Regions from separate parts of the Homo sapiens genome. Here region 2 is linked to region 1. Evidence: fine-mapped expression QTL. A gene starts in region 1. The other region holds a variant in brackets. All regions are shown on one strand. Distances are between the middles of the regions. Region 1 holds the start of RCOR1 (REST corepressor 1). Region 2 overlaps LOC105370680 (a long non-coding RNA gene).

Evidence for each region.
Region 2: its variant is fine-mapped to the expression of RCOR1 in monocytes after R848 (Quach 2016, PIP 0.95). The same link has a PIP of 0.9 or more in monocytes after Pam3CSK4.

What each region holds. Positions count from the first base shown.
Region 1 is chr14:102,581,198-102,595,840 of GRCh38, reverse strand. It overlaps RCOR1 (REST corepressor 1), which reads right to left and starts at 3,192. Exons shown (of 12, transcript NM_015156.4): 1 at 2,654-3,192; 2 at 2,516-2,575. The coding sequence starts at 2,954. It also overlaps the pseudogene RN7SL546P. RefSeq lists silencers at 2,216-2,825, 2,886-4,195 and enhancers at 3,774-4,589, 4,871-4,920, 11,106-11,634.
Region 2 is chr14:102,523,637-102,538,989 of GRCh38, reverse strand. It overlaps LOC105370680 (a long non-coding RNA gene), which reads right to left. Exons shown (of 4, transcript XR_944239.2): 2 at 13,582-13,729; 3 at 7,962-8,134; 4 at 7,699-7,852. Among named protein-coding and RNA genes, the nearest start is that of MIR4309, 8.3 kb to the left of the region's middle. RefSeq lists an enhancer at 9,751-10,252 and a silencer at 14,148-14,447. The variant T/C (reference allele first, on the strand shown) is at 8,040.

The sequences.
Region 1 (14,643 bases):
ATGAGAGGCCGAGACGGGCGGATCACGAGGTCAGGAGATCAAGACCATCCTGGCTGACACGGTGAAACCCCGTCTCCACTAAAAATACAAAAAATTAGCCAGGAGTGTTGGTGGGCGCCTGTAGTCCCTGCTACTCTGGAGGCTGAGGCAGGAGAATGGCGTGAACCTGGGAGGCGGAGCTTGCAGTGAGCTGAGATCACACCACTGCGCACTCCAGCCTGAGGGACAGAGCAAGACTCCGTCTCAAAAAAAAAAAAAAGAAATTTGGAAATTTTAATATCAATACTCAACCAATTGGCAGCAAGACTATGCAGCAAAACAGTTAGATGTTTTCCTTTTTATTTCTGAGACAGGGTCTCACTCTGTCACCCAGGCTGGAGTGCAATGGCCAGATCACTGCTCACTGCAGCCTTGACTTCCCAGAGATCCTCCAGCCTCAGACCCCCCCGTAGCTGAAACTACAGGCACATGCCACCATGCCCAGCTAATTTTTTTATTTTTTGTTGAGACAGAGTCTGACTACATTGCCCAGGCTGGTCTCCAACTCCTGAGCTCCAGAGATCCTCCAGCCTTGGCCTCCCCAAGTGTTGGGACTACAGGTGTGAGCTACTGCAATCTGATAAATGTTTTCCATTTTAGAATAGCTGGTCACTAGCAAGTTTATGCTCATATCTATTCCAACAAAAAGCCCAAAGACAGTTCAAAATATTATATTTGCTGTTTCAAAGAAAAGTATAACTCCAAAGAAGTCAAACTCATTACTAACAATGCAGAGCTGATGTCAATATTTCGATGAATGTCAGAAATCTAATTCCTGTTGTTGACAAATATGCCCTTTTCCTTAGTCACATCCAACACATCTACATAAAGTTTTCAAAATTTATGTTAACAAAAATGTATCAAAAAGCCTACCAACTTACTCAAAGATTTGTGGAAGTCGATTTTTAAAAATAATACATTAGGAAAATTTGGTAACAAGCTTTATGTTCTGTGTTTTAAAGCAAAGATAGACTTGACCTACAAAATGAAGACAGGGTCAACTGTAACCAAAAAACAGTATGCTTCCCCTGGTGGCCAACCAAGGAACGGAGGAGCCAAGCATACAAGAGATATAGCCTGGCCACCTAGTTCTATCCTGTCACTCATAAACGAGAAGTGACTACCAAAAAAAAAAAAAAGAATTGGGGAGAAGAGGAAACTATCAAAAACACTAACATGGACTTAAAAGAAACACAAACGCGAGTATTAGACAAATAAATTTAACAGATTTACGTCAACAAATCAAAATTTAGAAGGCCAATTTAGGAAGTCATTTATTTCCAGAGTGTCCAAGAGCTCACCTAGGACCTCTATGTATTTTCACTTCAAAGTGCAGTTTAGTACCTTAATAACAGCTTGAGAGCAATCGCCTTTTTCAAGGACTAGATCATTGCAATTTTCTGCAGTCTTGTTTCCAAGGAAAAAACATGTATGCGTTTATCTTTTCAAATAAACTAGTGGTATAACCCACATACAGAACCCCAGCTCTAAAGCCCTCCAACCATGGAGGATTGTTAACTCCAGCTTTACAAGATGCTCTTTTGAATTTTATTTCTGAAATAAATCCTACGTTCTTTCAAACATTTTCCATACCAACAACCTTTAAAGACAGTCTCATACAGACACTGGCTAGAATCTCATGCATTAAAATCTGACGAATTCCTTTGTCTGATCGGATTTTTTTTCTTGTACCACTTTAAATTTGCTTCTACACAGAATAGCAGCCAGGGAACTAAGTGTTCCATTCTAGGGTGTAGGGCTTTCTTGTAGGTGAAAAGCATTTGTTAGGCTAAAGCTTCTGATGCTTCTCAATTTCACAATCTCTTCCTCCAAAAAAAAGGAAATACACACATTTACAAATAGGTCCTAAAATCCAACTGCCACACGCGAGACTCTCTTCCCCAGGCAGGCGCCCTCTGGAAAACACACTTCTTTTATTGACTGGTTTTGGGGGGTCGTTCTTCTACTCGCCTTCTGGATGGGAGGGCAGTCAGGAGCCAGCAAGAGCCCAGAGGCTGAGAGGAGGAGCAAAGGCGTGGGGAGCAGCCTTTGGGAAGGGTTCCGAGAAAGGGGTCTCTGGGGACCTCCTAAGTCCGGGGCGCTCGCAGGACACTAACTCTCCGGCACTGCCACCCTTACCCCTGGCCGAGGCGCAGCTCACCTGGACGCAGGGACCCCCAGCGCCCCCAGGCCAGGTGTGGCCACCTCCGACGCCACCCGCAGTCCTCGGAGGCGCAAGGGGGCAGCGGCGCCGGCCCTGCTGGGGGCGACCTGGCCTCCCCCGGGTGCAGAGGCACGTTTGCAGAACACTCGTGTGCGTGTGCGCCTCCTCGTCCTCGCCCTGCTGTTCTCCCCACGGACGGCAGGGCGAACGCACAAAAAGAAAGTTGTCGGCGGGCTCCCGCCCCCTCGGGCTCGCCGGGGACCCGGGGCTCCCGCTCATCCCCGCCGCCGGCCGGCCGGGGCCGCTACTCACCGGGGTCGAAGTCGGGCACCACCGCCTGGTACTGGGGTCCGACCCTCATGCCACCGCCACCTGCGGGGGAAGCAGAATACGGCGGTCAGCGCGGCGCGGGGCGCGGGGCCCGGGGCCGCGGGGGCGGCTGCCACCTACCGTGCTCCTCGTCGCTGGACGAGCCCGAGCTGCCTTCCTCCCAGGAGTTGCTGCTGCTGTTGCCATTGGGCGCCGCCGCCGCCAAACTTTTATTCTGGCCATTATTGGGGGCGGCGGCGGCTGAGGCGGCGGCGGCCGAGGCTGAGGAGGCGGCGGCGCCCGAGGCGGCAGTGGCGGCTGGCGAGGCGCAGGCGGCCGAGGCGGCGGCGGAGGCGGCGGCGGCGGAGGCGGAGGCGGCCGCGTTGTTCCTCCCTCTCCGCTTCCCTGAGACCTCGGGGCCCTTCTCCACCATGGCCGGCATCGGCGGGGGCCGGGGCCGTGCGAAAGTGGCGGGGACCCGCGGCTCCTGAGGAGGGGGCGCCGAGACGGGGGAGGGGGCGCGGGGCCGGCGCGGGGCCGGGCGGGCGCGGCGGGAGCCCACGGGCGCGAGTCCGAGTCGGGGGAGGCCCAAACGGGCAGAGCGCGGAGCCGCTTCAAGCCCCCAGCGACGAGCCGAGCGCAACTTTCGCTCTCATCGCCGCCCTCACTTCACTGGCACCAACTACTCCGGGAGCAGCGAGCGGAGAGGGGAGGAGGCAGGGGCGGGGCCTGCAGGGGCGCCGGGGGAGGGGGGCGCGCAGCCCAACTGACGCGAGATGGCTCCGCCCCCCCTCGCGCTCCCATTGGCTCTGGTGGGATTTGGACAGCCAGCGGCAGCGGGGTTGGCTCCGCGCGCCCGTCCGTCCGGGGCGGCGGGGCGGGGGAGCGGGGAGGGGCGGCTCCGGGCTTCCGTTGGCGAGGTTCGGTTGACGCGTATCGCCCGCCGTACGTGGTTTGAGGTTTGCCATCTCCCTACGCCCCATGATCCATCTCTCCAGGCAGCGGCGAGGAGTTCGCGGCCCTCCCCGCCCCCTACCCTTGGCCGCGGCCCCTGCCCTTGCTGCCCGCGCACGCCTCCCGCAGCCTCTGGCCCCCCATCTGAAGGACCCCGCTGAGAGTCCCGTCGACTTCTCAAAGTAAAATGTGTCTGGCGCTGGGAAGCCGCGGAGCGCCCGGCCGGGACTACTTTCCGCTGCGCGGAGGAGTACGGGCGCGCTAAGACTCCATACAAAGAGGAAACTAATTGGGGGAAACTCGCTGCGCCCCCGCCTTTCCCAGGGGACGCGGGGCTGGCGGGGGCGGGGGCCGCGGCGCGGGGGACGGGCTTCCCAGGCGGCCGCCTCCCCTGGCGCGAGCTGCGTGGGGACTCGGGTCTGCGGTGCTGCCCGCTAATTGGGTGGGGGAGGCCGGGGCCCCCGGGGTGGCTTGGGTGCGGGGTGCGCCGCGGCTTCAGAGGCCCAAGGGAGGGTCCCCGTGGGTCCCCGGGGCACAGAGTCCCGGCGTGGGGACGCCCAAGCCGCCTGGGTGGCCGCTGAAAGATGAATGAAGGGGCCCAGTCGTCCTGGGGCGGGGGTCCAGGAAGGGTAAAGAGGAAGAAGCTATTTTCATCCCAAGCTCTCGGCACGGGAGGAGGGTCAACTTCTTTCGGGGCGAGGGCAGCCACTTTTCCGGACCTGCCGCCCGCCCCGCCTCCCTACTCCCCCCGGCACCCCCACGAGGGAGAACACGGGGTGCGGGCGGGTGGGGTAGGCTGAGGCTAGCCTGAGAGCCGCTGCCTTGGAGAGGGACCACCGGGCAGCCGTACAGCTGTTAGGAGGCTGAGGAGTGTAACTGCCTTGGAGGTCCCGGTGCCCTACCCCCAGCCAACCCTGAAACTACGCGCCCTTCGTAATTAGACCAGTGGAGGTCTATACGGAAAATCTTTTTAAAGCAGGGAAGGCTATTTTTCTTTTAAGTTACTTCAAACCTGAGCTTAATTTGGGGACTAGCTCTGGATATAAATAGCTACAGGGAGAATTTGGGAGTTTTATGGTTTTAAAGCCTGAGTAAATAAGCAGGGTTTTGTCTTGAACATTTTCTGCAGCATGAACCATTATTAACTTTATTGAAGAGACCACGTTCACTTCTGCCTAAATGGCCTTTAAGAAACAGGGCTGGGAGCCCTCCTGGTATAGAAGCCCTTCCCCCACCAAGTTCAGGTGGGGGACTTAGACTTTTAGACTCTCCTCAAAAGTACGTCCCTCTCCTTGGAGTGCCCTGGATGCTGCAGGTGTGTGCCCCAATACACCCTGTCAGCTGGCCTGGGCAGGGTACAGAACCGGGGTGGCATTCCCGGGGCTGGGCCACCGGCTAAGGCCTCTGACTCATCCGGAGGTGAGCCCTGTGTGAGGAATGAGGTCCAGAACACGCTGCCCCGCTCGCTTGGTGTCTACAAAGTTCTGCCACGAGACTAGAAGGATCAACCTACAAGGGCACAAAGGTGATACTGGGTCATTAAGGCAATAGGGATAGCAGAGCACACAAGGCCGCCCTCTCCACCCACCAGCCCCCAAGGCTGAGGCCAGGCTGGGCTACCAGTAGGGGCGCAGCAGTGGACTTGACAAGCATTCTTTTTTTTTTTTTTCCAACGAATATTAACACTTAATATGTGCCGGGCCCTGTTCTATTTTGTCTGACCCTAATGCTACACCGATACTGTATTGGCCTGAAGCTCTCAGATTTACCAACCGTAAAATACAGGAAACAGTACCTACCTCCTGGCCTGATGGACTGTAATAGAGTCCATCCTTCCAGCATAGGGAACCCCAACGTTAAGGACACTCGCCTTCCCATCGCTTGGGGAGAGGGCTCCACACACAGCCCTGGGATTGGGAATTTGTGATCCCACACTTCTAACGCATCCACAAAGCCGGCAGCCCTATCATGTTTTTCGGTGAGACTCCCACTCTGAAAGTGAGACCTCATGCCTGCTCCCCTCTCCTTACACCTCCCACAGCCCCTTCTGCCTGGGCTCCTAGCCCGTGGCCTTACCTCATTCTTCAGAGAAAAACGAAAGCCTTCAGGATCTTTCTCCTCTCCCAGTACCCAAACAGACAAACTTCCCTGTCGGGTACTCACGTCCTCCTCAGGCCTAGGACCCCATCCCGCTGCCCTCCCCTCGAGGCTTTTCTGTGCCATCAGCCTCACTCTGGACCGACTCCTGCCCCCAAACCCTCTCCTGCCTCTGGCCATTTCTCCCTCCCTTCAGACATTTCTGTAGACTTCCCTACACTCACCTCCTCCACCCCTTCCCGTCCCAGCCTCTCATCACCCCATCCAGCAGGGCTGTGTCCCCACCCCTTAACTGCTGCTAAGGTAACCTACAACCTCTCCGCTGCCCAATCCGGGGGTCACTTCTTGGTCTCGCTGAGCTTCTCAGCAGCAGCTGAGTCGACCACTCCTCCTCCTGGAAACCCTCACTTATCTGGACCTGGGGATTCCAGTTCACCTGGTCCTGCTACCTCACAGGTCACTCCCCATCAGTCTCCTCTGCAGCTTTCAACCTGTCATCGTTGGGATTCCTCCTTGCCTTTTTCCTTTCATTAATTTTTTTTTTATCCAGAGTCTCACTCTGTCGCCCAGGCTGGAGTCCAGTGGCACGATCTGGGCTCACTGCAACCTCTGCCTCAGCCTCCCGAGTAGCTAAGATTACAGGCACCCGCCACTACACCCGGCTAATTTTTGTATTTTTAGTAGAGACGGGGTTTCACCATATTGGCCAGGCTGGTCTTGAACTCCTGGCCTCGTGATCCGCCCGCCTCGGACTTCCAAAGTGCTGGGATTACAGGCTTGAGCCATGGCGCCCGGTGACATAGCGAGATCCCGTCTGTATAAAACAAAAACAAAAAAAAAAACTGTGACCCTATGACCATCTCGTCCCCCCACCCTAAAAAAAAACAAAAACTATGACCATGACCATCTCATACCCCACCCTTATAGATGAGAAAGCTGAGGCACCCAGAAGTGAAATATCTTCCTAGGATCAGGCATGATATGAGGGGAGGAGCCGGGGCACAGCTAAGCCAGGAGCTATGGAGCCTCTTAACCAAGGCCAGAGTTGCCCCAGGGATTCTGGGACGGCCAGGGGCAAGGGTGTCTGCAACATGCTTGGTCTGATGCTAAACATACAGTGTTTATAATTTTGTATTCATTGTATTTTCCCAGAAAAAGGGAAGGGAAAAGAGTCAGCATGTGTTATAAAATGATTAGAAAATGGGAAAGGAAGTACCTGGTACAGCAAAATCAACCATCAAATGAACATACCCCAGTGATGGAGTCATCAAAGCCCAAAGGGGCTCCGTCTCCTTCAGTTCAGGAATGAAGGGAAGGGATCAGGAAAAGGAGAGACGGGTACAGGCTTTCCTACCCCAGTGTTTATAGTTCTTCCTGCTGCTAATTATTATTATTACTATATTTGGGCTTGTTAGAAAATTCTGTTTGGCAAGGAATTCCTTTCCCAAGAATGGAGCCAGGCAGAGGGCAGGGTATGGGCCAGGGCTGGGAAGTGTCAGGAAAACACCCTAAAGCCATTCCTGGGAGGTTTCAAGCCCCCAAAGGACTATTGGAAAACTGAGACTTCAGGCTGGAATTTTAGCCATCCTAAGAGTTCTGAACCTGGAATCCATGGATAGAATTCTGGAGACCATGAACCAGAGCTGGTAAATACATCTTTATTTAAATTAACCTTTAACACCAAGTGCGGTGGCACTCACTTATAATCCCAGGTACTTTGAGGCCTCCAGCAAGACCCCTGTCTCAAAAAAAAAATCAACCTTTAACCAAAATCCAGCATTTTCTTCACTTATGAATGTAGGTGATATTCCATCTCAACACATTGCAGTCACTGGAAATATCTCAAAATAGCATTTATTTATTTATTTTATTTTTATTTTATTTTTTGAGACAGAGTCTTGTTCTGTCGCCCAGGCTGGAGTGCAGTGGCATGATCTCAGCTCAGTGCAACCTCCCGGGTTCCAACTATTTTCCTCCCTCAGGCTCTGAGTAGCTGGGATCACAGGCACCCACCACCACGCCCAGCTAATTTTTGTGTTTTTAGTAGAGATGGGGTTTCACCATGTTGGCCAGACTGGTGTCGAACTCCTGACGTCGTGATCCGCCCACCTTGGCCTCCCAAAGTGCTGGGATTACAGGCATGAGCCACCGCGCCCAGCCTCAAAATAGCACGTATACTCGTCTCCAAAATCACAGAAGTTATTAGACCCACTGCTAGAACTTGTTACTTAATATGTTAATAACTAAGCAAGTAAATCGTAGACCTAATTGTAAGACCTAATTGTAAAACTATAAAACTGTCAGATGAAAACCTAAATCTCTGTGACCATGAGGTAGGCAAAGTCTTCTTGATTACGATGCCAAAAGGATAAGGAACAAAAGAGAAAAATTGGAATTCATAAAAATTAAAACTTGTGTGGGTGAGCATGGTGGCTTACGCCTGTAATCCCAGCACTTTGGGAGGCTGAAGCGGATGGATCACCTGAGGTCGGGAGTTCGAGACCAGCCTAACCAACATGGAGAAACCGCGTCTCTCCTACAGATAAAAATTTTGCTGCAGATGGTGGCAGGCTCCTGTAATCCCAGCTACTCGGGAGGCTGAGGCAGGAGAATCACATGAATACAGGAGGCGGAGGTTGCAGTGAGCAGAGATTGCGCCATTGCACTCCAGCCTGGGCAACGAGCAAAAACTCCGTCTCAAAAAAACAAACAAAAAAAAGATTAGCTGTGGCTGGATGCGGTGGCTTACGCCTGTAATCCCAGCACTTTGGGAGGCCAAAGCGGGCAGATCACGAGGTCAGAAGATCAAGGCCATCCTGGCCAACATGGTGAACCCCATCTCTACTAACAATACAAAAATTAGCTGGGTATGGTGGTGCATTCCTGTAATCCCAGCTATGGGGTGGCTGAGGCAGGATAATCTCTTGAACCAGGTAGTCGGAAGTTGCAGTGAGCGGAGATCACGCCACAGCACTCTAGCCTGGCAACAGAGTGAGACTCCGTCTCAAAAAAAAAAAAAAAAAAAAAGATTAGCCAGGCGCGGTGGTGGGTGCCTGTAATCTCAGCTACCTGGAGGCTGAGGCAGGAGCATCACTTGAACCTGGGAGGCAGAGGTTGCAGTGAGCCAATATCGCCCCCCATTGCAGCCTGGGTAACAGAGCGAGACTCCTGTCTCAAAAAAAAAAAAGGCCAAGAAACTCATGCAAAGATGCTCAATGTTAGCCGTCAGGGAAATGAAAAAACCACAAAGAGATGCCACTTCTTGCCCACCAGGATAGCACTCATCAAAAAGATGCAGTAACAAGTGCTGGAAGCCACTGCTGGTGGGAATGTAAAATGGTGCAGCTGCTTTGGAAAATAGTCTGGCAGTTTCTCAAGAAGTTAAACATAGAGTTGCCATTTGACCCAGAAATCCCACTCAGAGATATATACCCAAAACAACTGAAAACATATGTCCACACAAAAACTTGTGGGCAAATGTTCATAGCAGTATTATTCATACTTAATGTCCCTCATCTGATGAATGTTTAAACAAAGTGTGGTCTATCCACACTGGAATATGGGTCAGCCATAAAAAGGATGCTACAACATGGATGAATCCTGAACAGGTTAAATGAAGAAGCTAGTCACAAAAGACCACATAGTGTATGATTCCATTTCTATGAAATGTCCACAACAGGCAGAAAGCAGATTATTGGTTGCTGAGGGAGAGAGGAATGTGGAGTGACTGCAAATGGGTACAGGGTTTCTTTCTGAGGTAATGAGATGTTCTTTTTGTTGTTGTTTTTTGTTTTTTTGTTTGTATGAGACGGAGTCCCTGTCGCCAGGCTGGGGTATAGTGGCGCGATCTCAGGGTGCAATCTCGACTCACTGCAACCTCCACTTCCTGGGTTCAAGCGATCCTCCTGCCTCAGTCTCTCAAGTAGCTGGGAATACAGGTGCGCACCACCATGCCCAGCTAATTTTTTGTAGAGACAGGGTTTCACCATGTTGGCCAGGATGGTCTCGATCTCTTGACCTCGTGATTCACCTCCCTCAGCTTCCCAAAGTGATGGGATTACAACCGTGAGCCACTTCACCCGGCGAGATGTTCTAACATTGATTGTGGTGATGGTTGCATGACTCTGGATATACTAAAACTGCTGTATCGGACACTTCTCATGGGTGAATTGTATGGCATGTACTATGAATTATATCTCAAGGAAGCTGTTTGGAAAATAGAGATAATTAAATAACAGAAAGAATGAGGAGGAAGAAGACACAGAAGAACACATCATTCAGGGTCTCCGCGTTTCTGTAGATTTCGTTTCCTTTGCATCCTTCATTTGCCAGGGTGTTGGAGGAGATGGCCTCCCTGCCAGGACTTGAGACTTCAGGCCTGGCTTTCCACACCCACACCTTTGCTAGGGTGCCAAGGCCAGTGTGGGTGCCCCACCCCGTTCCCACAAGGCCACCCCGAGGAGTCCTCATCCCCATGCTCCTGGTGGGTCACGTCCACACTTTACGGTTATGTCAATCCTAACTCCAGCCTTGCAGCCAGGGCACCCTCCCGGTCCAGATGAACAAATGGAGGCCAGGCTGGGAGCTTGTCATCGCGATAAGATTATCGAGGGGAAGTGTGAGCCAGGCCCTTTCCTGCCCAGCCGCCCCGCCCTTTCTTTACATTCCCTTAGGAATGCTTTTCACTCTGTCTAAGAAGCTTCCCGTGAGGCATGGGCGGACGGCAGCAGCAGGCCTGGGACCAGTGTGAGGCCTCCCTCAAGGGGCCGCAGGCATGTGGGAAGACCAGCTCGGGCAGAGCTCAGACCTAGGCTGAAGCAGGTCTCTGCCCAGGAGAGGAGAGGGCCTCCTGCCTAAGCTGGCCTCAAGATTCCCCACTTTTGGGACCTCTCTTCCCAGGATTGCCCAGGGGTGAGGCTCCCACCAGGCCACGCGACCCAGATCATGCCCCTTGGCCTTCACAGCTCAGCTCGCAGGCCCCCTTCTCCAGGAGCCCTTCTGAACCTCCTGACCGCCTCAGCCCCCTGTCCCAGGCCCTGGTGTCCCCACTCCTGGCACTGATGACAGTTGTCATGAGCCATGCTTAGGGCTACTTGTGTTTCCCTCCCCCCTGCCCCCACCCCGAATTGTAAGCTCTGCAAGATAGGGTCTCACTCTTGTGTGTCTGGAATCCCGTGCCCAGCACAGAGCCTGCCACGCAGCAAGGGCTGCTTCAGTCACCACTGCTGACTTTGTCTTGGGGTCAGGCTGGGACATTTAAACCAGACCCCAGTAAGAGTGTAGATATATTGGCAGGGATATAGATAATGAGCAGAGCACTGGCTTCCCAGCAGCCTCGCAGCAGACAGATACCGGCTACACCAACATTTAGACCCTCAGAGAAAAGGGTGTTCTTTTCTCTGTCTAGAAACTGCCTTCCAAGAGTGGTTTCCTGGGCTGGGCACAGTGGCTTACACCTGTAATCCTAGCATTTTGGGAGGCCGAGTCGGGCGGATCAGTTGAGGTCAGGAGTTCGGGGTCAGCCTGGCCAACATGGTAAAGCCCCGTCTCTACTAAAAATACAAAAATTAGCCAGGCGTGATGGTGGGCGCCTGTCTTCCCAGCTACTCAGGAGGCTGAGGCAGGAGAATCGCTTGAACCCGAGAGGGGGAGGTTGCAATGAGCCTAGATCGTGCCACTGTACTCCAGCCTGGCGGACAGAGCAAGACTCCATCTCAAAAAAAAAAAAAGAAAGGTTTCCTGGCTGAGGACCTACCCCTTGTCCACAAGAGTGACAACTAGCCCTCCCGTCCCCCAGGATCTTTCAGTAAAAGACAAACCAGGGAACTCTCCCTGGGACAGACAGACAGATACGGATGGCCCTAGTGGGCAGGGGTGGGACGTGGAAAGGCTTGCTGGCATTCAGTCCTGCGGATGGTCAGGCCTGGCCCAGCTAGATGGGCCTCCATTCACCTCTCGTTCACAGATGAGAGACACATGGGGCTTTTCCCCAGGACACTGCAAGTACTGGGCCTGTCAAGAGTGACACGAGGGTGCCCTGGGAGGTGGGATACCTGGGCCGTACTCTTTCCTCTACCAGCTTAGATACCACGACACCCTTCCAACTGCCATCCCCTAATGACATGACAGCCAGAGATCATCTTTGAAACAAGGGCTGGATCACTTCCTTCCTGGCTTACAACCCCCACCACCCCCCACCCCCACCCCCGGTCCCTACGGGGATTTCCTGTGGGCCAAGGATGAAATTCCAAACACTCCACAGCTGGCCCCAGGCACATGAGGCATGGCCCTGCCTCCAGCTCCACTTCGACTCCTGGCCTCATGTCTCCCCTCCCCTTCACACCCTGCACCTGCCTCAGGGCCTTTGCATAAGAGCAACAACTAGCCCTCCCCTCCTCCAGGATCTTTCAGTAAAAGACAAACCGGGGAACCCTCCCTGGAACAGACAGACAGAGAGATGGATGGCCCTAGGAGGCAGGGGTGTGACACGGAGAGGCCTGCTGGCATTCGGCTGTTTCTAGGCCGGGAACACCTTTCCCCCAATCTTCCCAGGCTTCCTCTGCCTTACCCCACCTACATGTCACCTCCTCCAGGAGCCTTCTGACCATCCCATCCATGGGAGGTCCCCACCCCTGCCCACTCCGGGGCTGTGCCTCATTACCAGCCCTGTCTCAGCTGCAGCCCTGGGACTCTTGGTTCTTGTATCTCTCTCCCTCCCCAGACCCCACCCCGCCCAGGACCTCTTGGTGTTGCCGTCCTGCTTGCACTGCTCCAGTGTTCAGCAGTGCCTGGTCTAGAGGAGAATGTGTCTCAGAGTCTCCTCTGCTGCGCACACATCTTGGGGCTCCTGGGAGTGACGCAGGGGATAGCCGAAGACCCTCTTCTCCTCCAGCCATCTCCCTCAATTTCCCCTAGCATCTGCCTTGCTGGCAGCCCCATATCATGTCTCTCCCTGCACTGGCCTAGCACACGGAGGGGAGAAGGGAGTGCCTGCTTCATGGACATGGGTTTCCTGCTGGAACTTCACTGTGGAGATGGTTGTGCAACATCGTGAATGTACTGTATGTCCCTGAATTGTACATTTGAAAATGATTTAAATGGCCAGGCGTGGTGGCTCACACAGCTTTGGGAGGCTGAGGCAAGAGGATCGCTTGAGCCCAGGAGTTCTGGGCTGTAGTGCGCTATGCCGAGAGGGTGTCCGCACTAACTTTGGCATTAATATGGTGACTTCCGAGGAGCAGGGGACCACCATGTTGCTTAAGGAGGGGTGAACCACCACCCCAGGTCGGAAATGGAGCAGGTCAAAACTCCCAGGCTGATCAGTAGCGGAATTGTGCCTGTGAATAGCCACTGCACTCCAGCCTGGGCAATACAGCAAGACCCTGTCTCTCTTTTTTCTTTTCTTTTTTTTTTTTTTTGAGACGGAGTCTCACTGTCACCCAGGCTGGAATGCAGTGGTGCAATCTCGGCTCACTGCAACCTCCGCCCCCTGGGTTCAAGCAATTCTCCTGCCTCAGCCTCCCGAGTAGTTGGGATTACAGGGGTCTGCCACCTCACCCCTAAAATGTATGTAAAAATACAATACTAATTATTGTATTTTTAGTAGAGTTGGGGTTTCACCATCTTGACCAGGCTGGTCTTGAACTCCTGACCTTGTGATCCACCTGCCTCGGCCTCCCAAAGTGCTGGGATTACAGGCGTGAGCCACCGTGCCTGACAACCCTGTCTCTTAAAAAAAAAAAAAAAAAAAAAATTATAGGCCGGGCGCAGTGGCTCAAGCCCGTAATCCCAGCACTTTGGGAGGCCGAGGCGGGCGGATCACCTGAGGTCAGGAGTTCGAGACCAGCCTCAACATGGAGAAACCCTGTCTCTACTAAAAATACAAAATTAGCCGGGCGTGGTGGCGCATGCCTGTAATCCCAGCTACTCAGGAGGCTGAGGCAGGAGAATTGCTAGAACCCGGGAGGCAGAGGTTGCAGTGAGCCGAGATCACGCCATTGCACTCCAGCCTGGGCAACAAGAGTGAAACTCTGTCTCAAAAAAAATAATAAAGTAAAATAAAATAAATTACAGGGATGAGGCAGGGAGGACAAAAAAAAAGAAAAATTTATTATTATTATTATTTTTGTTGTTGTTGTTGAGATGAAGTCTCGCTCTGTCGCCCAGGCTGGAGTGCAGTGGTGCAATCTCGGCTCACTGCAAGTTCTGCCTCCCAGGTTCACGCATTTCTCCTGCCTCAGCCTCCCTAGTAGCTGGGACTACAGGCGCCTGCCACCACACCCGGCTAATCTTGTTTTTTGTATTTTTAGTAGAGACAGGGTTTCACCATGTTAGCCAGGATGGTCTCGATCTCCTGACCCCATGATCCATCCGCCTCAGCCTCCCAAAGTGGTGGGATTACAGGCGTGAGCCACCACACCCGGCCAACAAATTATTTTTTACAATTCCACACCCAATGTCAACTCTGCCTCCAGACACATCTGGAGTCCAGTCCTCTCTCGTTCCCCCACTGTCCCCACCATGGGGCAGGCCTCCTCACATCTCACCTGGCCTCCTTGCTTCTATCTTTGAAGCATGGGGCACAGAAGAATACGGCTAATACAGAAACCATATCACGTCTGGTCCTGCTCTAGACCGTCACCCAGAACAAAAACATAGGCTTGGTCGGGCACAGTGGCTCACTTTGGGAGGCTGAGGCGGGTGGATTGCCTGAGCTCAGGAGTTGAAGACCAGCCTGGGCAACAACGGTAAAACCCCGTCTCTACTAAGATACAAAAAATTAGCCAGGCATGGCAGCATGCACCTGTAATCCCAGCTACTCGGGAGGCAGAGACAGGAGAATCGCTTGATCCTGAAAGGCGGAGGTTGCAGTGAGCCGAGATATTGCGCCACTGAATTCCAGTCCAGGCGACAGAGCAAGACTCCATCTCAAAAAAAAAAAAAACAAAACAACAACACCAAAAAAAAAAACCATAGGTTTGGCTGGGTGTCATGGCTCACACCTGTAAGTCCAGTACTTTGGGAGGCTGAGGCGGACAAATCACTTGAGGCTATGAGTTCAAGACCTGTCTGCACAACAT
Region 2 (15,353 bases), 57 kb after region 1:
CCCAATAGCAGCTGGGGCCAGGCCTGGAGGAGGGGATCTGAGCCCTGGGCCGGCCGGGCAGCTACGCAGGACTCTGCGGGGCCGGGCATGGCCTGGCGTTTCACACGACCCAGTCCCATCCCTGGGCCTCAGTCTTCTGTGTGTGGAACAGGAACACCCCCTTGAGGGCTGTGGTGAGGACCCGATGATACTGGCGAAGTGCCCTGGGCCCAGCTGGCCCTCCTGTCTTGGTCCCGGGGCATGGTGGGAAGGGAGCTGGGGGGCAGAGTGTGGCAGGGTCATCCCCCTCCTGACTTCCTGGCGTGGCATTGAGTTGGGAAAGGTTGCAAAGGGGTGAGCTCTCCTGAACTGGTGGCCCAGGCAGCTGGGGAGGGGCAGCACAGCGCAGAGTGCCCCTGCTGGGTGCTGGGTGGGGCACCAGTGTCCAGAACGCTCAACACAGCCCTCCCCTTGGGGCTGCAAGGCCCCCACCCCATATTAGCCTGGCAGCACTGGGGATGTGGCACCAACACCTTCCAGTGGAAGTGTCTGTGACGGGAGGTGAAGGCTGGGTATTTAAACATCTGGAACCAGCTCTGAAGGCCAGGCCCGCTGTGGGGGGTTTGGGTTCCAGCCAGCCGCGCAGCGTGGGAAGGATCACAGCAGTGTGGGCCAGTGGAGAGCGGTGGCTGGCTCCAAGTACAGATTCTGCCTCAGTTTCTCCATGGGTGTCTTGGGGGCTGGTCTTCCTCAGCCCCAGCTGCCTGCCCTTCTCGCCCCCCCACAGCTCATTTCTGCAGGTGGCCCTCCCTCCAGCCCCGGCTGGGCCCCTTCCCTGTGGCTGAGTTACCCCCGGCCTGCCCCTGCCAGTGGGGCTCCTGCTCCCACGGGGGCATCCTTCACACATTTTTTCCCAAACCGCCCCTCTCCCGCGTCATCACAGCTCCTTGGATTTACATCGGCCAGAGCAGCAGGCCTGGGCCTCCTGTTCACCAGCCATCCCTGTCACTGAAGCTGGTGTGCCCTGGGGCAGGGTCAGGGATGTGGCACAGAAGGCTGCCCGGCAAGTGCCTGAGGAAAGAGGGAAAGTCTGAATGCACAGAAACAAACACATCAACAGATGCTATTCACAGCTCACGAGAATCCCATGATATCCCCATTTACAGAAGTAGTGGGCACAGAGAGGTTAAGCAACTTGCCTGGAGTCACACAGCCTGGAAGTGGCAGAGCTGGGATTTGAAGTCAGATGAGTGACAGCCTTCAGCAGCAGGCCCTTTCCCTGAAAAATGGGACCTCCTGGAGGCTGGATAAGGCCTCAGTGGAGACACTGTGGCCCTCACAGCAAGTCTGACAGACACACAAACAGAGACTTCAGGTCTTGCCCTGGGAGGAGAAGGAGCTGGCCCTGCTTCCTCTCCTGCCTGGGGAAGGATGTGCACACACCAGGAAGCCACCAAGAGGGGCTCAGATCCCAGCAGGTTTGCCCTTGGCCTGGGCCCCAGACCCCCCTGTGGTCCTAGGTCTGAGGACCTGCCTGGGGACAGGGCTGGGCCGCTGGTCCCAGGGCCTTGCAGCCCCAAGGGGAGGGCTGTGTTGGGCATCCTTGAAACTGGTGCCCCACCCAGCACCCTGACGTACTCCCCTGGGGGTCAGCTCTCCACAGCAGCTGAGGTTGGAGGGCTTAGGGGCCCCAGAAGTGCCTTGCCGGTCAGTCACCCTCAGAGCACCAGGGAGGACTCTCCCAGGAGCTTATTAGAAATGGAGGGTCCAGCCGGGCGCAGTGGCTCACACCTGTAATCCCAGCACTTTGGGAGGCCGAGGCGGGAGGATCACGCGATCAGGAAATCAAGAACATCCTGGCTAATACGGTGAAACCCAGTCTCTACTAAAAATACAGAAAATTAGCCAGGTGTGGTGGCAGGCGACTGTAGTCCTAGCTACTCGAGAGGCTGAGGCAGGAGAATGGCATGAACCCGGGAGGCGGAGCTTGCAGTGAGCTGAGATCGCACCACTGCACTCCAGCCTGGGTGACAGAGCGAGACTCCATCTCAAAAAAAAAAAAAAAAAAAAAAAAAAGAAATGGAGGGTCCTGGCCAGGCACCGTGGCTCACGCCTGTAATCCCAGCACTTTGGGAGGCCAAGGCGGGCAGATCACAAGGTCAGGAGTTCGAGACCAGCCTGGGCGACATGGTGAAACCCCTGTCTCTACTAAAAATACAAAAATTAGCCAGGCATGGTGGCGCAGGCCTGTAATCCCAGCTACTCAGGAGGCTGAGGCAGGAGAATCACTTGAACCTGGGAGGCAGAGGTTGCAGTGAGCCGAGATTGCGCCACTGCACTCCAGCCTGGGCAACAGAATCGAAACTCCATCTCAAAAAAAAAAGAAAGAAAGAAACAAGCCCCTGAACTCTGCTCCCTCTCCTGTCTCCAACTCACGAGGAGGAGCAGGCAGGCTCGTGGCTTATCTGCAAGGCTGTTGTAGTCGGGCGGGTCGGGGGACATAGGGTAATCCCTCCAGCGTCCTATCGATGTCCCTGGTCACCCTCCGCAGTGATTGCACGAAGAGCTTTCACTGAGCACTCCAGCTGTCCCGAGAGCTGTCAGGGGATCTCACCTGCTCAGGACTCCTCGTTTTGCAGTGGAGGAAAGTGAGGCACAGAGAAGTTATGTAATTTGTCTAGAAGTATGTAACACAGCTGGCATGCATAGGAGCCGGGATTCGAACCCAAGCCATCAGGCCCAGAACCCCTGCTCTTAACCATGAAAGTTATATGTCTTCTTGTGTAAAACAGCTGGAGCCCCCATCACGCGACAGGGAGAATGGCCATCTTTCTTCCCTGGGTCCTACAGGAAGTCCAGGCACCCCAGGGGCTTCCTCCATTCTGAAGAAAGACTAGGAAAACCTCTGTCCCAGGACACCCTTCTCTGCCGCCCACTGCCCGGCTGCTGGGGCTGCCTCACTGAGGTAGGTGTCAAGGGCACAGGAGGGGAGGGGTGCTCCCAGGGCCTGGCTGCCAGGGAATTTACATGCCCTAGAGTCACAATGCTTCATCTGGCTGGGAGCAGTGGCTCACGCCTGTAATCCCAGCACTTTGGGAGGCCGAGGCAGGTGGATCACGAGGTCAGGAGATCGAGACCATCCTGGCTAACAGGGTGAAACCCCGTCTCTACTAAAAATACAAAAAATTAGCCGGGCGTGATGGTGGGCGCCTGTAGTCCCAGCTACTTGGGAAGCTGAGGCAGGAGAAGGGCATGAACCCGGGAGGCAGAGCTTGCAGTGAACTGAGATCACGCCACTGCACTCCAGCCTGGGCAACAGGGCGAGACTCCATCGCAAAAAAAAAAAAAAAAAAAAAGAAAGAAAGAAAAAAGGAAAAAACAAGGCTTCATCTGCCCTTGCTGAAGTCTCCCCTTCCCCAGCACTCCCTCCACAGGCCTGGATCACAACCACATCCCCCTGCAGTTTCCCCAGTGCCTCTCCCCTCCCTGCCTGCCCCTCAGAGGGGTCAGGGCAGCAAGTAGCCTTGCAGGAAGGAACAGGGTGGCCTGGGGGCTCCTAGAGAGTCTCCCCCGAGCCACAGACTATCCACTCCAGCAAGGCATCCAGGCTCCCGTGTCACCAGAGGACAGATCGTTTTTTGTTTGTTTGTTTGAGACAGAGTCTTGTTCTGTCACCCAGGCTGGAGTGCAGTGGCGCAATCTCAGCTCACCGCAACCTCTGCCTCCTGGGTTCAAATGATTCTCCTGCCTCAGCCTCCCGAGTAGCTGGGATTACAGGCATGCGCCACCACGCCTGGCTAATTTTTGTATTTTTAGTAGACACGGGGGTTTCACCATGTCGCCCAGGCTGGTCTCGAACTCCTGACCTTGTGATCTGCCCGCCTCGGCTTCCCGAAGTGCTGGGATTACAGGCGTGAGACAAAACACCTGCCCCCCCCCTTTTTTTTTTCTCTGAGATACAGTCTCTGTTGCCCAGGATGGAGTGCAGTGGTGCCATCTCGGCTCACTGCAACCTCCACCTCCCGGTTCAAGTGATTCTCCTGCCTCAGCCTCAATAATAGCTGGGATTACAGGCACCTGCCACCATGCCCAGCTAATTTTTGTATTTTTAGTAGATATGGGGTTTCACCATGTTGGGCAGGCTGGTCTCGAACTCCCGACCTCAGGTGGGCCCACCTCAGCCTCACAAAGTGCTGGGATTACAGGCTAAGCCACCGCGTCTGGCCCAGTTTTTTTGTTTGTTTGCTTTTGTTTTTGAGACTGAGTCTCACTCTGTCGCCCAGGCTGGAGCGCAGTGGCGCGATCTTGGCTCACTGCGAGATCTGCCTCCTGGGTTCATGCCATTCTCTTGCCTCAGTCTCCCGAGTAGCTGGGACTACAGGTGTCCGCCACCACATCTGGCGAATTTTTTTTTTGTATTATTAGTAGAGACGGGGTTTCACTGTGTTAGCCAGGATGGTCTCGATCTGCTGACCTTGTGATCTACCCGTCTTGGCCTCCCAAAGTGCTGGGATTACAGGTGTGAGCCACCGCGCCCAGCCTGGCCCGGTTTTTGTAAATAAGTAAATATACATCTTTTTTTTTTTTTTTTTTGAGACAGAGTCTCGCTCTGTCACCCAGGCTGGAGTGCAGTGGCGCGATCTCAGCTCACCACAAGCTCTGCCTCCTGGGTTCACGCTATTCTCCTGCCTCAGCCTCCCGAGTAGCTGGGACTACAGGTGCCCGCCACCACGCCGGGCTGAGTTTTTGTATTTTTAGTAGAGACGGGGTTTCACCGTGTTAGCCAAGGTGGTCTCGATCTCCTGACCTCGTGATCCTCCCGCCGTGGCCTCCCAAAGTGCTGGGATTACAGGCCACCGTGCCCGGCAATTTACATATATTTTTTGCAGAGAGGGAGTATCGCCATGTTGCCCAGGCTGGTCTTGAACTCCTGTGCTGAAGGGATCCTCCCATCTCAGTCTCCCAAAGTGTTGAGTTGTGTGAACCAGAGCAACTCCATCTTGAGCAGGGGCTGAGTAAAATGAAGCTGAGACCTACTGGGCTGCAATCCCAGGAGGTTAAGACATTCTAAGTCACAGGATGAGATAGGAGGTCGGCACAAGATACAGGTCACAAAGACTTTGCTGATGAAACAGGCTGCAGTAAAGAAGCTGGCCAACACCCACCAAAACCAAGATGGCGATTAAGAGTGACCTCAGGGCGTCCTCACTGCTACACTCCCACCAGCACCATGAAAGTTTACAAATGCCATGGCAACGTCAGGAAGTTACCCTATATGGTCTAAAATGGGGAGGCATGAATAATACACCCTCTATTTAGCATGTAATCAAGAAATAACCATAAAAATGGGCAAGCTTGGCCAGGCATGGTGGCTTAGGCCTGTAATCCCAGCACTTTGGGAGGCCAAGGCAGGGAGATCATCTGAGGTCAGGAGTTCTAGACCAGACAGGCCAACATGGGGAAACCCCGTCTCTACTAAAAATACAAAAAGTTAGCCAGGCGTGGTGGCTCATGCCTGTAATCCCAACTGCTCTGGAGGCTGAGGCAGGAGAATCGCTTGAATACAGCAGGCAGAGGTTGCAGGGAGCCAAGATCATGCCACTGCACTCCAGCCTGGGAAACAGAGGGAGACTCCATCTTAGAAACAAACAAACAAAAGGGCAACTAGCTGCCTTCGGACCTGCTCTGCCTTAGCCATTCTTTTTTTTTTTGAGATGGAGTCTTGCTCTGTTGCCCAGTCTGGAGTGCAGTGGCACAGTCTGGGCTCACTGCAACCTCTGTCTCTTGGGTTCAAGAGATTCTCCTGCCTCAGCCTCCCGAGTAGCTGGGATTACAGGTGCCTGCCACCATGCCCGGCTAATTTTTTGTATTTTTAGCAGAGGCATGATTTCTCCATGTTGGCCAGGCTCGTCTTGAACTCCTGACCTTGTGATCTGCCTGCCTCAGCCTCCCAAATTGTTGGGATTATAGGCATGAGCCACCGCGCCCAGCCCAGAACAGGCAACATTTTTTTTTTTTTTTTTTTGAGACGGAGTCTCACTCTGTCGCCAGGGCTGGAGTGCAGTGGCGCGATCTTGGCTCACTGCAACCTCCGCCTCCTGGGTTCAAGCGATTCTCCTGCCTCAGCCTCCCAAGTTGCTGGGATTACATGTGCCTGTCATTATGCCCAGGTAATTTTTTTGTATTTTTAGTAGAGACGGGGTTTCACCGTGTTGGCCAGGCTGCTCTCGAACTCCTGACCTGGAGATTCACTCGCCTCGGCCTCCTAAAGTGCTGGGATTACAGGCGTTAGCCACCGTGCCTGGCCAGGCAACTTTTAAACCCAAGCAGCTTCTGTTCTTGTCTTTGACCACCCTGGGCTCCCTGCGCCAGAGTCTCAAAATGTCAAGGCAGGGAGTGTCCTTGGAGATGATCTTTCTACATCCTCATTTCAAAGACAGGCAGGAGCTCAGAGAGGTGAAGGGATTTGCCCAAGGACACACAGCTTCTCAGTGATTACATCAGCTATTGCTCACGGTCCTCCACTTCCACTCCCCACCTCCACCTCCCACAGAGATCCAAGGGATTAGAAGCTGATATTTTATCAGGGCATTTGCTGCCTGGAATTAAGACATTTCCCAGCCTCCCTTACACATAGGTGTGGCCATGTGACTAATTTTTGGCCTCAATGTAAGGAGTGTGTTTGACTTCATAAAGAGTTCTTAAAGGGAAAGGCACACTCTACTCCCTTCTCACTTCTGGGAATGCAGATAAAATGGCAGGAGTTTCAGCAACCATTTTGAACACGAAGTGATCTCAGAAATGAAAACTATTCATGTGGCCCAGTGCAGTGGCTCATGCCTGTAATCCCAGCACTTTGGGAGGCTGAGGCGGGTGGATCACCTGAGGTCAGGAGTTCAAGACCAGCCTGGCCAACATGGCAAAACCCCGTCTCTACTAAAAATACAAAAATTAGCCAGGCATGGTGGTGGGCGCCTATAATCCCAGCTACTTGGGAGGCTGAGGCAGGAGAAACCTTTGAACCTGGGAGACGGAGGTTGCAGTGAAGCCTCGGCGACAGAGTGAGACTCCGTCTTAAAAAAGAAAACTAGGCCGGGCGCGGTGGCTCACGCCTGTAATCCCAGCACTTTGGGAGGCCGAGGCGGGTGGATCATGAGGTCAGGAGATGGAGACCATCCTGGCTAACATGGTGAAATCCAGTCTCTACTAAAAATACAAAAAAATTAGCCAGGCGTAGTGGCAGGCGCCTGTAGTCCCAGCTACTCGGGAGGCTGAGGCAGGACAATGGCGTGAACCGGGGAGGCGGAGCTTGCAGTGGGCCAACATAGAGCCACTGCCCTCCAGCCTTGGCAACAGAGCGAGACTCTGTCTCAAAAAAAAAAAAGAAATGGAGGGTCCAGGCCGGGCGCGGTGGTTCACACCTGTAATCCCAACACTTTGGGAGGCTGAGGCGGGCGGATCACAAGGTCAGGCGTTCGAGACCAGCCTGGGAAACCGAGGGAGACCTCCATCTCTACAAAAAGCACGAAAATTAGCCGGGCATGGCGGTGTGGGCCTGTAGTCCCAGCTACTTGAGAGGCTGAGGTGGGAGGATCACCTGAGCCCAGGAGAGGCTGCAGTGAGTTGTGATCGTGCCACTGTTAGCGTTGGAGGGTTTCCAGGATCTTGGTGTCTTGAACAAAGAATTGGACAAAACGTATAAACAAATCAAGGAAAGAATGAAGAAACAAAAGCAGAGTTTTATTGAAAACAAAAGTACAGTCGACTGCACAGAGTGGGAGCGGCCGGAGCACGTTGGCTCAAGAGCCCGTCACAGAATTTTCTGGAGTTTAAATACTCTCTAGAGGTTTCCATTGGTTATTTGGTGTGCACCCTATGTAAATGAAGAGGCTTAAAGTGAGTTACTGAAGTGAAGTTACAAAGCTATTTACTGGGTGTACACCCTATGTAAATGAAGAGGATGAAGTTACAAAGTCACTTACTTGGTGAACGCCCTATGCAAATGAAGAGGATATTTCCTGTCGTAGCTGAAATGCCTCCTCTCTCCTCTCCATCTGATT[T/C]AGTTCTGGGAAGTCCTCAGGTTCCCTTCCTCTAGGACTTATTCTCCCGTCTCACCACTGCACTCAAGCCTGGGCCCCAGAGCCAGACTCTGTGTCTAAAAAAAAGAAAAAAAGAGGCCAGGCACAGTGGCTCACACCTGTAATCCCAGTACTTTGGGAGGCTGAGGCAGGTGGATCACCTGAGGTCAGGAGTTGGAGACCAGCCTGGCCAACATGGTGAAACCCCGTCTCTACTAAAAGTACAAAAAATCAGCCAGGCGTGGTGGCGTGAGCCTATAGTCCCAGCTACTCTGGAGGCTGAGGCAGGAAAATCACTTGAACCCAGGAGGCGGAGGTTGCAGTGAGCCAAGATTGCGCCATTGCACTCCAGCCTGGGCTACAGGGCAAAACTCCATCTCAAAAAACAACAGCAAACAAAAAGAAAAAAAATAAAACCAGGTACGGCAGAGCCACAGGATGAAAGGAATAAAGGCAGCCCAGGTTCCTGACACTGTGACACTCCTTGCCATATAAGCCCTGGGCCCCTCTAAACAGATTTTGTTTTTGTTTTTGTTTTTGAGACAGCATTTTGCTCTGTTGCCCAGGCTGGAGTGCAGTGGCACAATTCAGCTCACTGCAACCTCCACCTCCCGGGTTCAAGTGATTCTCCTGCCTCAGCCTCCCAAGTAGCTGGGATTACAGGCGCCTGCCACCACGCCCAGCTAATTTTTTTGTATTTTTAGTAGAGACGGGGTTTCACCATGTTGGCCAGGCTGGTCTCGAACTCCTGACCTCAAGCGATTCACTCCCCTTGGCCTCCCAAAGTACTGAGATTACAGGTGTGAGCCACCGCGCCCGGCCGACATCTTCACAATGAGAGAAAAATAAGCTTCCATTGAGTCTGAGCTGTCCTTTTCTGGGGTTTTCTACTGGGTCCGCTTGACTCTGAGTCTAACACTTTTCTTGCTCTTCCAGAGTTTCTTCTCTGAGGAGGTACAGTGAGGAACAGAGAGGTCTTGGTTCAGAGTAGGCCCTGGGGTTTATGATTTGACATTTTATGTAGGGTGCAGGGACCCCAAATGATTTCTATCTTCATTATTCTATTTATTTATTTTTTGGGATCAGTTTCGCTCTGTCACCCAGACTGGAGTGTAGTGGCGCCATCTTGACTCACTGCAATCTCCGCCTCCCGGGTTCAAGCGATTCTCCTGCCTCAGCCTCCTGAGTAGCTGGGACTATAGGGGCGTGCAATCACGCCCGACTAATTTTCGTATTTTTAGTAGAGATGAGGTTTCACCATGTTGGTCAGGCTGGTCTCGAACTCTTGACCTTGTGATCTGCCTGCCTTGGCCTCCCAAGGTGCTGGGATTACAGGTGTGAGCCACAGCGCCCGGCTATTTTTTAATTTTATTTTATTTTTGAGATGGAGTTTCGCTTTTCTTGCCCAGGCTAGAGTGCAGTGGCACGATCTTGGCTCACCACAGCCTCTGCCTCCCAGCTTCAAGTGATTCTCCTGCTTCAGCTTCCTGAGTAGCTGGAATTACAGGCATATGCCACCACGCCTGGCTAATTTTGTATTTTTAGTAGAGACCGGGTTTCTCCATGTTGGTCAGGCTGGTCTCGAACTCCTGACTTCAGGTGATCCGACCACCTAGGCCTCCCAAAGTGCTGGGATTACAGGCATGATCCACTGCACCCAGGCTTTATTTTTAATTTATTATATTTTTTTCAGACAGGGTGTTGCTCCGTTGTCCAGGCTGGAGTGCAGTGGCGTGCTCACAGCTCACTGCAGACTTCACCTACAGAACTCAAATGATCCTCCCACCTCAGCCTCCAGAGTAGCTGGGACTCTGCCATTGCACCTGGCCCAGAAATGATTTTTAGTAGTTAACTCCTTTTTCTTTCTTTTTTTAATTTTTGTTTTTTTGAGACAGTGTCTCACTCTCTCACCCAGGTTGTAGTCCAATGGTGTGATTGCCATTCACTGCAGCCTCAACCTCGTGGGCTCAAGTGATCCTCCCACCTCAGCCTCCCGAGTAGCTGAGACTACAGGTGCACGCCACAACCCCCAGCTAATTTTTTTTTTTTTTTTTTTTTTTTTTTTTTTTTTGTAGAGAAGGTTTCACCATGCTGCCCTGACTGGTCTTGAACTCCTGGGTTCAAGCGATCCTCCTGCCTTGACCTCTCAAAGTGGTAGGATTACAGGCTTGAGCCACTGCGCCCGCCTGCTAAACCCCTTTTCACAGGAAATTTTACTCAGAAGCTCAACAACAACAATAACAAAATCACTTCCTGAACTGAGAATGTCCAGTTGAAGTGAGTGGGGTGGGAGCCCTACCCACGTGGCCTCCCCTCCTAGGTCCCCAGTTCCCTAAGACACTCCCAGTTCCCTAAGCCTCTGGCACAGCTACGTATTTATTTATTTATTTATTATTTATTTATTTATGAGACAGAGTCTCGCTCTGTCTCCCAGACTGGAGTACAGTGGCACGATTTCAGCTCACTGCATCCTCTACCTCCCAGGTTCAAGCGATTCTCCTGCCTGAGCCTCTGAAGCAGCTGGGATTACAGGTGTGCACCACCACGCTCAGCTACTTTTTTGTATTTTTAGTACTTTTTGTATTTAGTATTTTTTTTATTTAGTAATTTAGTATATGTTGTATTTTTAGTGGTTTCACCATGTTGGCCAGGTTGGTCTCAAACTCCTGACCTCAGGTGATCTGCCCACCTCTGCCTCCCAAAGTGCTGGGATTACAGGCGTGAGCCACTGTGCCCGGCCAGGGCTACATTCTCGAAAGCACCTTCCTGCCCCCTGCCTTACCCCAGGATGGCAGGACCCAGTCTCTGGGTGTCAGAGAGAGTGACGGGAAGGCTACAGTGACTCAGCCTGGGAGCCACCAACAGCCATCACCCCTGGGCCTGAGGTCGGGCAGGGCTGCTTGTCACCCTCGGGAGTCTTTGGCTCCGGGGACTCAGGGCATAGCAGCACCTTCCCCAAGCCCTCCCCATCCCACAGGGCAGGCGTGGGAAGCAGCAGGTCCCACCTTTCCCCAGGATACTGCCTGGCAATGCCTGGGTAGCTGGAGTCTGGGTCAAACCCAGGGGAGCAGGAAGGCCCAGAGCCTCAGTCCCACTGCCAGGCCCCTCAGGCTCCTCCTTCATCAACAAAGCAAATGAAGGCAACAAACTCAGAGTGCACCTCTCCACCCTTCCCTCTGCTCCATGAGTGGCCACGCCACGCCCAGCCCTGCCCTGCCCTGCCCTGCCCCATGTCTTCCTCCCCACCGCTCTGTGACTCAGAGTTAAGAGATGAGACACTCTGAAATCACTCTAGGGTGAGGGGCTGGCATTTGTGTTGCCAACCTGATGTTCCCAGGAGGCACCCACAAACTACACCCTTGGTGGCTGAGGGTGCATCCTTCTGTTCAGCGAGTCATCAGGAAGCATGTCACAGTGGAGTGGTGCTTTCTCCATTGGTGGCAGGTGGAACACAAGCTTCTCGAAGTTTTCCACCATTGTTTCCCTAGTTGTGCAGGCCAATTGACCAGGATAATGGAGGCCTGCTGCTATCACAGAAGAACCTTGCTTTATCAAAAATCCACGTGAGGCTGGGTGTGGTGGCTCACGCCTGTAATCCTAGCACTTTGGGAGGCCAAAACAGGGAGATCACTTGAGGTCGGGAGTTCAAGACAAGCCTGGCCAACATGGTGAAACCCCGTCTCTACTAAAAATACAAAATTAGCTGGGTCTGGTGGTGCAGGCCTGTAATCCCAGCTACTTGGGAGGCTGAGGCAGGAGAATCGCTTGAACTCGGGAGGCAGAGGTTGTAGTGAGCTGAGATCACGCCACTGCACTCCAGCCTGAGCAACAAGAGCGAAACTCCGTCTCAAAAAAAAAAAAAAGAAAAAAAAAAGAGCAAAACTCTGTCTCAACAAAACAAAACAAAACAAAAAAACAAAACAAAACAAAAAACCCAAACCAAAAAACTCCATGCGAGTGTTACGCGGTACCCCTGCAACATGGGAATCCTTGTGTGATGCAAAAGTTAGGTTTTATGCATTTGCTCAATTTTGCACCTCCCACTCCAAATGGCCACGGAAGGCTGGTGCGCCGGAAGGTGTTCTGTGTCTGTCCGGTGGCTTCTCCTCAACCTAGCCTGCACTCGCCAGGCTCTCATTCTTGTAGTTCAGAAGCAAAGTTTTAGAGAGAGTATGGATTTTGCCATTGGAATTGCTGGCTTCCGGTTGTGGCTGTGTGACCTTGGGCATGTCACTCGACCTCTCTAAGCCTCCATTTCCTCTCTGCTTTTAGTCCCCACTAAGGCCAACGTGTGTATGGAAGTGGGGGTGGGGCTGGGGGTTGGGATGGCATTTTCTTCCTTGGCAGACAGGGCCCTTGAGAGCCTTAAAGAGGGGCCGGGCGCGTTGGCTCATGCCTGTAATCCCAGCACTTTGGGAAGCCAAGGCGGGCAGATCACCTGAGGTCAGGAGTTCAAGACCAGCCTGACCAACATGGTGAATCCCAGTATCTACCAAAAATACTAAAATTAGCTGGGCATGGTGGTGCATGCCTATAGTCCCAGCTACTCAAGAGGCTGAGGCAGAGGCAGGAGAATCGCTTGAACCCGGGAGGCAGAGGTTGCAGTGAGCTGAGATGGCGCTACTACACTCCAGGCTGGGTGACAGAGTGAGTCATGGTCTCAAAAAAAAAAAAAAAAAGAACCTTAAAGAGGACTGCTATGAGTTCTCCTTGCAGACGAGGAAAGTACCCCAGTTTGACCCCTCAGTCTCCGGCTCTGGCTGGGTAGGGCCATCCTGGCTTGGTACTTTTGCCCTAGCTCAGGCCACGGTGAGCCCCCCGGTGAGCAAATGCTCTTGGTCATGCCATGCAGAGGCTGGGCTGGGCGCTCTGTGGATCCCCACGCAGGATGGGTTCTGGGGTGCACAGAAGAACCTTTTTCAAACATGGTGGTAAAACGCACATCACATAACACTTACCGTTTAAACCATGCTTAAGTGTACAGTTCACGTCTTTGCCATGGTCAGGGGAAAGAAGGAGGAAGGGAGGAATGGAAAGAAAGAAAAGAAAAATAAAGAAAGAGAAAGAAAGGAAGGAAGGAAAGGGAGGGAACAAACGAATGAAAGAGAAAGAAAAAGAAAGAGAAAGAAAGGAAGAAAGAAAGAAAAAGAAAGAAAGGAAGGAAAGAGAAAGAGAAAAAGGAGGGAAAGAGGGAAAGAGAAAAAGAGGAAGGAAGGAAGGAAAAGAAAGAAGGAAGGAAAGAAGAAAGGAGGCAGGGAGGGAGGAAGGAAGGAAGGAAGGAAGGAAGGAAGGAAGGAAGGAAGGAAGGAAGGAAAAAAAAAGCGTACAGTTCAATCTAAGCCGAAACTCCATACCCATTAAACAATACCTCCCCATTCACGGCTCCTCCCAGCCCCTGGCAACCACTATTCTACTTCCTGTCTCTCTGAATTTGACTACTCTGGACACAGAATGTAAGTGGAATCCTACAGTATTTGTCTTTTTGTGACTAGCTTATTGCACTCCGCATAATGTCAGGGTTCACCTTTCATCCATGTTGCAGCATATGCAGAATTTCCTTCTTTCTGCGGTTAAAGAGCTCTCCACTGTCCGTATAGACTGTTTGCTCACCCCTTCACCCGTCCGTGGACCCGTGGGCTGCTCCCACCTTTTGGCTGTTGGGAACGCTGCTACTGTGAAAGTGGGTGTGCAAATGGAAGAACATTATTTTGATGGTGTTGAATTTGGTTTAACCCATATTAGAGCAAACATAAGGAGCACAGCAAACATCACAGATATGAGATGAATGCTTAGGGTGCGGCTGCAGTGACGAAGTGATTTCAGGTCAATCACGAAAGGGTGACAGCGGACAGGATGAGAGTCGCCAGGAGCCAGCGAGAATGACTTCGGTTTGAGAAAGTCTAAGCTGGGTCAAGCCAAGGAGGAGCCCAGGCCACTCGCCCCGCGTCTCCCTCGCCGGGATCCCCTCCTCGGACCTCCCCCTCCTGTCTCCGGGCTAGCCCTTCTGCCTGCGGCTACCACACTCCCCTGGGGCAGCTTTGGCCCCGGGTTCCAGGAAAGCATCTGATTGGCCGTGTTCTCACTAGGCCAGCCCTGATAGATCACTGGCCAGCCTATGGATAGGCTCCCCTCAGTCAGATGCCCATGCCTGGTCCAATCAGCGGTGGGAAGCCGGGAGGGTCGGGGAAGTAGCTGTGGCTGGCGGGGCTCCCAACTCCTGCAGGGACTCCTGGCGGGTCCAAGGTGAAGCCCGGCCAGTCTCAGGCTTCACAGCGCCCCCTGGTGGTCCGGGGCGGAGGCGGGGAGGAGCCCAGGCAGCCGCAGGGCGAGGCTCAGGGCAGGCGTGGAGGCTCAGATCCGTAATCTCAGCACTTTGGAAGCCAAGGGGGGAGGATCGCTTGAGATTGGGAGTTTGAGGCTAGCCTGGGCAACATAGTGAGACCCCCTATCTCTACTAAAAATTAAATTTAAAAAAAGGGGGTCAAGGTCTGAGCATGGCTGACTCCACTCTGGACTCCATACCTGAGGGTAACCAAGGGAAGGGTGTTGGGGAGCGGTCCTGCCTGGGGCTGACCCCCCAGAACCTGCCCAGCTCCCCTTCTATCTGGGGCTGGGGGAGTTGGTTAGTGCGGGGTGGGGTGCGGGGACCCAGAACCCCCCAAAGCTGCTCTTCTCTCCCGGGCAGCCTCTGCCTTCTCCCAGCCCCCCTTTCATCACTCAGGGAGCCCTGAAAGTGAGGACCTCAGGTACTGTGCGTTTCCTAACCTCGCCTCAATCCTGGGTGTCCTGTTTGGACTCTGGGGCCCTCTGCGCGGCTCTCAGCGAATCTCTCAGCACAGGGGTGCATGGGTACCCCGCCCTTTGGTTCCAGGCTCAAGTCAGTGGCACCGTGTCCCCTCCAGGCCAGAGAGAGGGGTCTGCTCCCAGCGGTTCGTGGGCGGCTGGGGCTGGCGCACACCCTCTCTGCCTTTCCCTCCCGAAGCGCCGCCGTGGGCCAGGCCCCACCCGAACGGGGAGCGTCCCTAATTGCCCTGCACTAATTGCAGCTTCACCTGCGCGGCTGGGCTGGCCTCCCCTGAGCCTGGAGCTTGTTATTGGAAATAAGCCGATTTCTCCAGTTTGGGAGAATTCAGACTTGGGGGTTGAACTACTTGTGATTTGGGGCATTTATCATTGAAAATAGGCCTCGTTCCCTCACGGAGAGTTTTCTGTAAACAACTCGGCGCCACACATCCAGGCTCGCGTATCCGGGGCCCTGGGACCACACACAGGCCCCAAGGGTTTGGGGGCTGAAAC